Linked DNA regions of Homo sapiens: all the other regions are linked to region 3. The links come from fine-mapping of genetic effects on gene expression. A gene starts in region 3. Each other region holds a variant in brackets. All regions are shown on one strand. Distances are between the middles of the regions.

The links. PIP is the estimated chance that this variant, and not a neighbour inherited with it, causes the effect.
Region 1: its variant is the best candidate, but not a certain one, in a credible set for the expression of RTCA-AS1 in adrenal gland (GTEx, PIP 0.51).
Region 2: its variant is the best candidate, but not a certain one, in a credible set for the expression of RTCA-AS1 in atrial appendage (GTEx, PIP 0.67).

The regions. Positions count from the first base shown.
Region 1 is chr1:100,286,817-100,289,583 of GRCh38, forward strand. It overlaps RTCA (RNA 3'-terminal phosphate cyclase), which reads left to right. Exons shown (of 11, transcript NM_003729.4): 10 at 283-387. Among named protein-coding and RNA genes, the nearest start is that of MIR553, 7.0 kb to the left of the region's middle. The variant G/A (reference allele first, on the strand shown) is at 1,718.
Region 2 is chr1:100,240,211-100,242,977 of GRCh38, forward strand. It overlaps DBT (dihydrolipoamide branched chain transacylase E2), which reads right to left. Exons shown (of 11, transcript NM_001918.5): 2 at 551-674. Among named protein-coding and RNA genes, the nearest start is that of DBT, 8.2 kb to the right of the region's middle. The variant C/T (reference allele first, on the strand shown) is at 1,530.
Region 3 is chr1:100,264,611-100,267,377 of GRCh38, forward strand. It overlaps RTCA-AS1 (RTCA antisense RNA 1), which reads right to left and starts at 1,564. Exons shown (of 3, transcript NR_110435.1): 1 at 1,394-1,564; 2 at 1,219-1,307; 3 at 132-637. It overlaps RTCA (RNA 3'-terminal phosphate cyclase), which reads left to right and starts at 1,606. Exons shown (of 11, transcript NM_003729.4): 1 at 1,606-1,810; 2 at 1,914-2,014. The coding sequence starts at 1,766. RefSeq lists enhancers at 1,297-1,846, 1,415-1,774.

The DNA.
Region 1 (2,767 bases), 22 kb after region 3:
GATAGTTGGTCTAAGTATATTACTGTTCTGTATTTTACTTGTAAATATTAATTTAAAAAATTATATGTTGAGAGCTGCTACCAAGCCTTTTTGTACTACTCACAGACTTAGGGTAACATAGGTTTTCTGTCATCTTCTGAGTATGTCTGGAAACCTAAAGAAATAGAAATTCTGTTTTAGCAATTTTTATTTCTAGTAGTATTTTTATTATGGGCAGCAGTGGAATTATAATGCCAAATATTAATAAATGTGTGAGGTTTTTCTTTGTTCTTTTTTAAATAGCTGATTGTTTTCATGGCATTAGCCAATGGAGTTTCCAGAATAAAAACAGGACCAGTTACACTCCATACGCAAACCGCGATACATTTTGCTGAACAAATAGCAAAGGTGAGTATTCTATCAGAAAGGGAAATTGATATTTTGATTTTTATTTTAGCCAATTTTGGGTTAAATTTTAATAGGAAACTTAATAGTAATCATAATTGCTATCACTGTTTCCTGTGTGACAGGCACTGAGCTAATTTAGCAATTTATCTAAACTGTCTACTCAGCATAACTATTGTAGGTGGCTATTTATTATTATTCCCATTATAAATATGAGTAAAGTGAGGCAGAGAGATTCATTAAATTGTTCAAGGCCACATGGATTTTTAGTGGCAGAGCTGAGCTTTGAGCAAACCTGGGAAAGCATACTTCAAAACCCATGTTATAATCACTGTGTGGTACTGCCTTACAGAGTAAGTAAAGATGTTTTGTTGTGAACTATGATATCAAATCACAAGGGATTCATAGTTGGCTATAAAAAAATTTATATAAAATTTTAGACATTTTATTTTCTTGATTCTATTGGTAAAATAGAATATTTGTTGAAACTAATATTCACTGTCCTCTGAAATTTAGTAGAGTTGACGTACAGTTTTTAATGAAGAAGGATTTATCATTATATGAGCTCATATTCATACCTTTCCTACAGGATTCTTTTTTTTTTTTTTTTTGAGACAGGGTCTCACACTGTTGCCCAGGCTGGAGTGCAATGGCATGATCTCGGCTCACTGCAACTTCTGCCTCCCAGGCTCAAGTGATTCTCCTGCCTTAGCCTCCCAAGTAGCTAGGATTACAGGCACATGCCACCACACCTGGCTAATTTTTCTAATTTTTGTAGAGATGGGGTTTTGCCATGTTGCTTAGGCTGGTCTCAAACTTCATAGCTCAGGTGATCTGTCCACCTTGGCCTCCCAAAGTGTTGTGATTATAGGTGTGAGCCACTGTGCCTGGCCTGGATTGTTAATTTAAAGAAACAATAGGTATATTTCATCATGAAACTAATGTAATTTCTTTATAGGAAATAGAGGGGAAAAGCCTTCTCATAATTTCCCCTTGCCGGTAAAACCACTGTTGACATTTAGGTGTTTTCCTCTTCTCCTAAATCGTTTCTCTTTGCATTTTTTGCAGTTAATGCATACAACTTCATTTCTTGCTTATTTCAGTAACATGTAGCATATTTCCCATTTTGCTTATTCTTTATAAAGTAATTTTATAAAGAAATATAAAATTTGTAACAATTTTATAAGGGAAGTTGCTAATCTTAAGCATTTTTATTATTATTGTTTTTGAGACAGGGTCTCACACTGTTGCCCAGGCTGGATTGCAGTGGCACAAACCTCCTGGGCTCTCAAATGATCCTCCCACCGCAGCCTCCCAAGTAGCTGGGGCTACG[G/A]GAGTGTGCCACCACACCTGGCTAATTTTTTGATGTTTTGTAGAGATGGAGTCTTGCCACATTCCCAGGCTGGTCTTGAACTCCTGGGCTCAAGCAGTCCTCTGACCTCAATCTCCCAAAGCGCTAGGATTACAGGTGTAAGCCAGCATGCCCAGCCCTAGTCTTAAGCATTTTTTAAAGTGACAAAAGTAACATATATTAATTTAAAAAATTAATCATTACAGAAGTGTCCCATACACAAAACCACTGTTGCTGCCCTACTCCTATTTGTATGATGATCCTTTTTCTTTTCTTTTTTTTTTTCTTAAGATAGAGTCTTGCTCTGTTAGCCCAGGTTGGAGTGCAGTGGCACAGTCTTGGCTCACAGCAACCTCTGCCTCCCAGGTTCAAGCAATTCTCATGCCTCAGCCTCCAGAGTAGCTGGGATTACAGGCGTGTGCCACCATGTCCAGCTAATTTTTGTACTTTTTAGCAGAGACAGGGTTTCACTGTGTTAGCTAGGCTGGTCTCAAACTCCTGGCCTTACGCGATCTGCCTGCCTTGGCCTCCCAAAGTGCAGGGATTACAGGCATGAGCCACCGCGCCTGGCCTTTCTTTTTTTTTTTTCTTTTAAGAGACAGGGGCTTGCTCTGTTGCCCAGGCTAGATTACAATGGCAGTATCATAGCTCACAGTAGCCCCGAACTCCTGGGCTCAAGTGATCCTTTCACCTCAGCCTATCAAGTAGCTAGGACTGCAGCTGTGCACCACCACACCCTGCTAATTTTTTTTTTGTTTTTGTTTTTGTTTTTTGAGAGACGGGATCTCCCTGTGTTGCCCAGGCTGGTCCTGAACTCCTGGGCTCAAGTGATCCTCCCACCTCAGCTTCCCAAATGCCGTGATTACAGCTGTGAGCTACTGTGCCCAGTTTGATTCTTAATTATGTATACTTTTAATTGTTATTAAGAAACATAGATAAGTTTTTGTTAAATTGTAGGAAAGACTGATGGGAATTAAAGGCAAATTGTATTTGATGTCAAGAGTGTTAACTCTATTTTTTTTGTTACTCTAC
Region 2 (2,767 bases), 24 kb before region 3:
TTTCAACAAACAATACCACAATGTGTATGCCAACACAAAGACACCTCTATTAAGTCAACAATTTACCTTGACTGAGAAAGTCATATCAATGCTGACTATTGCACTTAGATGAGCCAGATGATAAATAGATGGCCCAACACAACCCATTCCCAATATTATAAAGACACAAGTGCTGGGCGAGATAAGTTAATGCCTGTAATCCCAGCTCTTTGAGAAGCTGAGGCAGAAGGATCACTTGAGCCCAGGAGTTCAGGTTATAGTGAGCTGTGATTACACCACTGCACTCCAATCTGGGCAACTGAGTGAGATCCTGTCTCTAAAAAAAAATTTTTTTTAAAAAGGGGTGCCAGTGTTAAGGAAAGTATGTAAAAGAGAGGGATGAGAAAAAAGAAAGTGAGAACTGGAAAAATGTGGGGAGATGGGAAGGGCCCGGCTAGAAATACAGAGTCAACTTTTTTTTGTTTAAAAAGTCTCAATCAACTACTAAAAAATATTACTGAATGAGGTACAAAACATTATTTTATACACGTTATTTTGAAATCATACTTACCAGCAGTTGTTTTCAGGAAGTGATGTGGATGACTATACTTGAATGAAGGATAACCAAAGAAACACACATAATTTGGCTTCAAAACATGAACATTACCACATGTTTGAAAATAGCGAACACAAATCTACAGATGAGAAAACAAAAAGTAAAAGCATTTATAAACAACCATACCGGCTTATCTCTAAGTATAAATTGAATTTCAATTCCATTCTAAAAGTAGAACCATTGTCACAATAGAAATATTATATCCTTAGATTTAGATTTGTTACATTTATGATCCTTACCCAAAATTCCTTCTGAAAGTAAAGACATTTTAACAGTGTATTCTGTATAAATACATCAGCTTATAGGTATGCTTAAGTCATTGGACTTCCTGAACTAAAACTACTAAAGAATTCTAAAGTAATAGTTAGCATCTAAAAACAATGAAAAACTTGTATAGTATGATACCCCAAAGTTTACTTATAGTAACTTATAGATGACTCTTTAGAATTAACTATTTTACATAGTACCTTAGTATAATATTATTTTAAAATCTCTTATAGAAATAAGTAGGCCCAAATGTATTCAACTCTATATATCAAAACCTAAGTGTCTGAAAGGTATTGTGTGTGTGTGTGTGTGTGTGTGTGTGTGTGTGTGTGTGTGTATTTGAGACATGGTCTCACTCTGTTGCCCAGGCTGGAGTGCAGTGGTGCGATCACAGTTCACTGAAGCCTTGACCTTCTAGGCTCAAGGGGTCCTCCTGCCTCAGCCTTCCAAGTATCTGGGACCACAGGCGCATGCTACCCCACCCAATTAATTTTGTTTATTATTTGTAGAGACAAGGTCTCAGTATGTTGCCCAGGCTGGACTTGAAGTCCTGAGCTCAAGCAATCCTCCCACCTCAGCCTCCCAAAGTGCTAGAATTACAGGTGCGAGCCACCATGCCAGGCCATAATATCTTATTTGGAAAGTTAATATTTCAATGCCATTAGGC[C/T]AGGCGCGGTGGCTCACGCCTGTAATCCCAGCACTTTGGGAGGCCAAGGTGGGCAGATCACGAGGTAGGGAGTTAAAGAGACCAGCCTGGCCGATATGGTGAAACCCTGTCTCTACTAACAATACAAAAGAATTAGCTGGGCTTGGTGGCATGCGCCTGTAGTCCCAGCTACTTGGGAGGCTGAGGCAGGAGAATCGCTTGAATGCGGGAGGCAGAGGTTGCAGTGAGCCGGGATCGAGCCACTGCACTCCAGCCTGGTGACAGAGCAAGACTCCATCTCAAAAAAAAAAAAATTTCAATGCTATTAATACTTAACTACATCATACTGTAAACATAAACTACAGAATTTATTTACTTATTTAATTTTAAAGCCCTGAGCTTACTTCTCTGCAGAAATTTCTAACCTTCTTAGTATAAGAATACTGATAAGTGAAACTTTTTCATGTATGTAACAGAGTCACTTTTACTTAAAAAAAAAAATCATGTACATTAGTGGTGATTAGCTCTTAACTTTTAAAGGCTATGTTATAATAAACATCATATAGTACAGTCATGTTTTAATACATATTTATAAACTAGAATTTTTGTTTTTTTCTGATAGCAAATATAAAAGTAAAAGTTTGGTTTACTGACAAGAACAATACATTTAAATTCTTATTTTTTTACTTTAAATTTCAAACTATTACTGATTTCTGAAGGCAAAGAAAAACTGAAGATCCCTTTCCTAAAACATAAATAATCTTAAATCATTCATCTTAACTTTAGAGATCACCCTAAATCGACTAGTCTTTATAATATCAACATTTTATTTTTACTAACATTAATATTCAGGAAATATAAAGCCTAACTAAAATAATTAAAATTGATAACTTAAAACCAGAAGACAATAAAAGAATTCTCTTTCCCAAACATTTCCATTTTGTTTGTCCTTGCTTTCTCCTTCAGCTCCCATAATCCTGACTCTTGGTCAACAATAAAATCAAAGGAGTGAATCAACCTCTGTTTCATCAGACATAAAACTTAGGGACAATAAAGGAAAGTTTTGAAGTATATAGATTCACCTTAATTTAAATAAAATTGTTCATATTTGTAAAACATTTGAAAGAAAATTAAACTACTAGAAGGTCTTACCTTCAACAACAACACAACTCGTATTGAACTATTCATGGGTCGGGGCAGCATAAACCACCACGCTTAACATTTATTGAGTGCCTCCCATGTGCTGAGTACTTTCTTTT
Region 3 (2,767 bases):
AGCATGTGATCTTTGTACTTTTGTACCTACTCCCTGTTCTTACACCCCCTCCCCTTTTGAAACCCTTAATAAAAACTTGCTGGTCTGAGACTCAGGCGGGCATCATGGTCCTACCGATATGTGATGTCACCCCCGGTGGCTCAGCTGTAAAATTCCTCTCTTTATACTGTCTCTCTTTATTTCTCAGCTGGCCAACACTTATGGAAAATAGAAAGAACCTACGTTGAAATATTGGGGGCGGGTTCCCCCAATAAAGATGTCAGATAGGGGTACAGCTTTTTTATATTCCATCCCTACCATCATTGCCTTACTTCAACTTCTGATTATTTCTTGCTGGATAATTGTATCATTGGCATTTCTCCCTTCAGGCTCTTAAGCCTCTTATTCACCCTTCTCCTACTGCCAAAGCCTTCATTTTAAAATGCAAGTATCATTACTTCTCTGATTAATATCTTACGGCAAATTCCAGATTTGGTTAAGTACATAGTCTGTGTGTTCCCTAAAACATTCTCTGTCGCAAAGCAGCAGAGCGTTGGGATTACCAGACAGTGGTGTTCACATCAGACCACCCAGGTTCACATCTCAGTCTTCTAGTTAAAATTGTGTGACCTTGTAGCAAATTGTTTAACACAGGAAGCTGTAAAACAGTAAAAACAGTAAGTACTTTATCATGTTATGAATGCATGCAGTGCACAACACCTAAGTGCTCAATAAGTGTTGCCTGTTATTGTTACAGTATATTATTAATATATTGTAATTGTCCCCATAATAAACTCTAAATACAGTACATGTTAATTATTATTGAGGATGACATTGTAATTGATTACGTCTCAGTCTCTCCATTATACCTCCAATAACTTCGGGGGTAGAAGCTGAATTACTCTTTTTTGCTTCCCTAGAGGTTTACATATTATTTGGTACTCAATTATGTAGGAACTGAGCCACAGGCAGAACCAAGAAGCTGGCTATTGCTTCTGCCCTCGCCTGAGGTGAATTGTTAGCTGCACTGTTCCTGGGAGTCAAGAGCTTGCACTCACTCTCAAGCAAAATGGCATAACTTTGGCTTTTCAGAATATTAAACTAGTGATTCTGCCTTTCCCGCCTCTCAAATAAATGGTGTGTCACCCTAGAAAGAAAGATAACACACTCCGCATACACAAACACGCACACCGCAAGGAACCAAAGGCCAAGAGTATCAATGTACCAGGGCGCACACACTTCGAGAGACAGGTTCGGTGCATCGCAGGATCCCAATCTTTCTTGCATCTTCAGCTCTAAAAGTCGGCACCTCGGGGTATGCCAGGATCCTCGAGAAAACAGATATAAACACATATTTACCCACAAAACAGAGATAAAGCACAAGCCTGCGGGATAACTGGAGGAGTTATCTTACAGTTGAGACTTTCTGCAACCTGCAGATTTTGCCGTGCCCAGGGCACAAGTTTTTCAGGGCTCCTGGGCACCCCCGCGACCGTCATCTCACTTCCCCGGCAGCTTCCTCGCCCCGACCGCAGTGTTCCCAGCGCGGCTCCTTTAAGCCGAGCTACGCGCATGCGCACTGACTGCGGAACTGGGCGAACCCGGGGGTTCGTTTCTGCTGACTCCAGTGTCCCGAGAGGCGCCGCTTCTTCCGCTTTCTCGTCAGGCTCCTGCGCCCCAGGCATGAACCAAGGTTTCTGAACTACTGGGCGGGAGCCAACGTCTCTTCTTTCTCCCGCTCTGGCGGAGGCTTTGTCGCTGCGGGCTGGGCCCCAGGGTGTCCCCCATGGCGGGGCCGCGGGTGGAGGTCGATGGCAGCATCATGGAAGGGGTGAGTACAGAGCGAAGCGGCCGGGGCTGCAGCCTAACTAAGGAGGGGAGCTCTCACCACCGGTGTGCTTACTTCTCTTCTCCCTGTACCCCAACCTTTGCAGGGCGGCCAGATCCTGAGAGTCTCTACGGCCTTGAGCTGTCTCCTAGGCCTCCCCTTGCGGGTGCAGAAGATCCGAGCCGGCCGGAGCACGCCAGGCCTGAGGTAAATCTGGCTGGAGGGGGAGTTGGGCCGTGAAGCTGGGGGATCGGGGGGTCGGGCTGCCGGGCTGGGGCATCGGGAGTCCGAGTGGTGGAACCCAGAAGGTCCCAGACGCAGGTATGGGCGATCCAGGGCGGGGCACTCTGCCTGGGCGGTGGCCTGGGTTGTAAAGTCTTGAAAGCCTGGAGGGGTGAGTTTAGAAATGGTCTCGAGTTTTCTCTGTTTGACTAAATAGTGTCATTTGCTGAAGAGCTAGCTTTTAAAATGTTTTCTCACCTCACCGGGCATTCCAAATATCCGAACAGCACGTATGAGCTGGCAAGATAGATAGGGCAGAAATGCTTGTGACGCCAGAGGAAACCCTGTTTTATAACCAGTGCATTCTGGTTCTGCTGTCAGTTTTAGAATCATAAAACAGGAAAGAATCCTGAGATGTGTTATCCCAGCCTTCATTCATACCTCCAGAGAGCTGTTATGACCAGAATTATCTGTTGTGGAGAGGGAAACACCTTGACATTTGACCTTATTTCTTCTGTCTGGGTAGCTGGGCATGCCACTAGTTGAGCTTCAGGTACATGCACCTGCTAGAAGAGGACCCAGGTTTGAAGCCACACTGATTGCTTTGTATGTATTCTGTATTTATTACATTTTAATAAATCAGCGGTCTCAGTCTTTTGTCTACAGTTTTGAAATTACCAAAAGGCAATTACTGATATGTTAATGTTAATTGCCTTTGTCATAGTTTGCAGCCCTCCA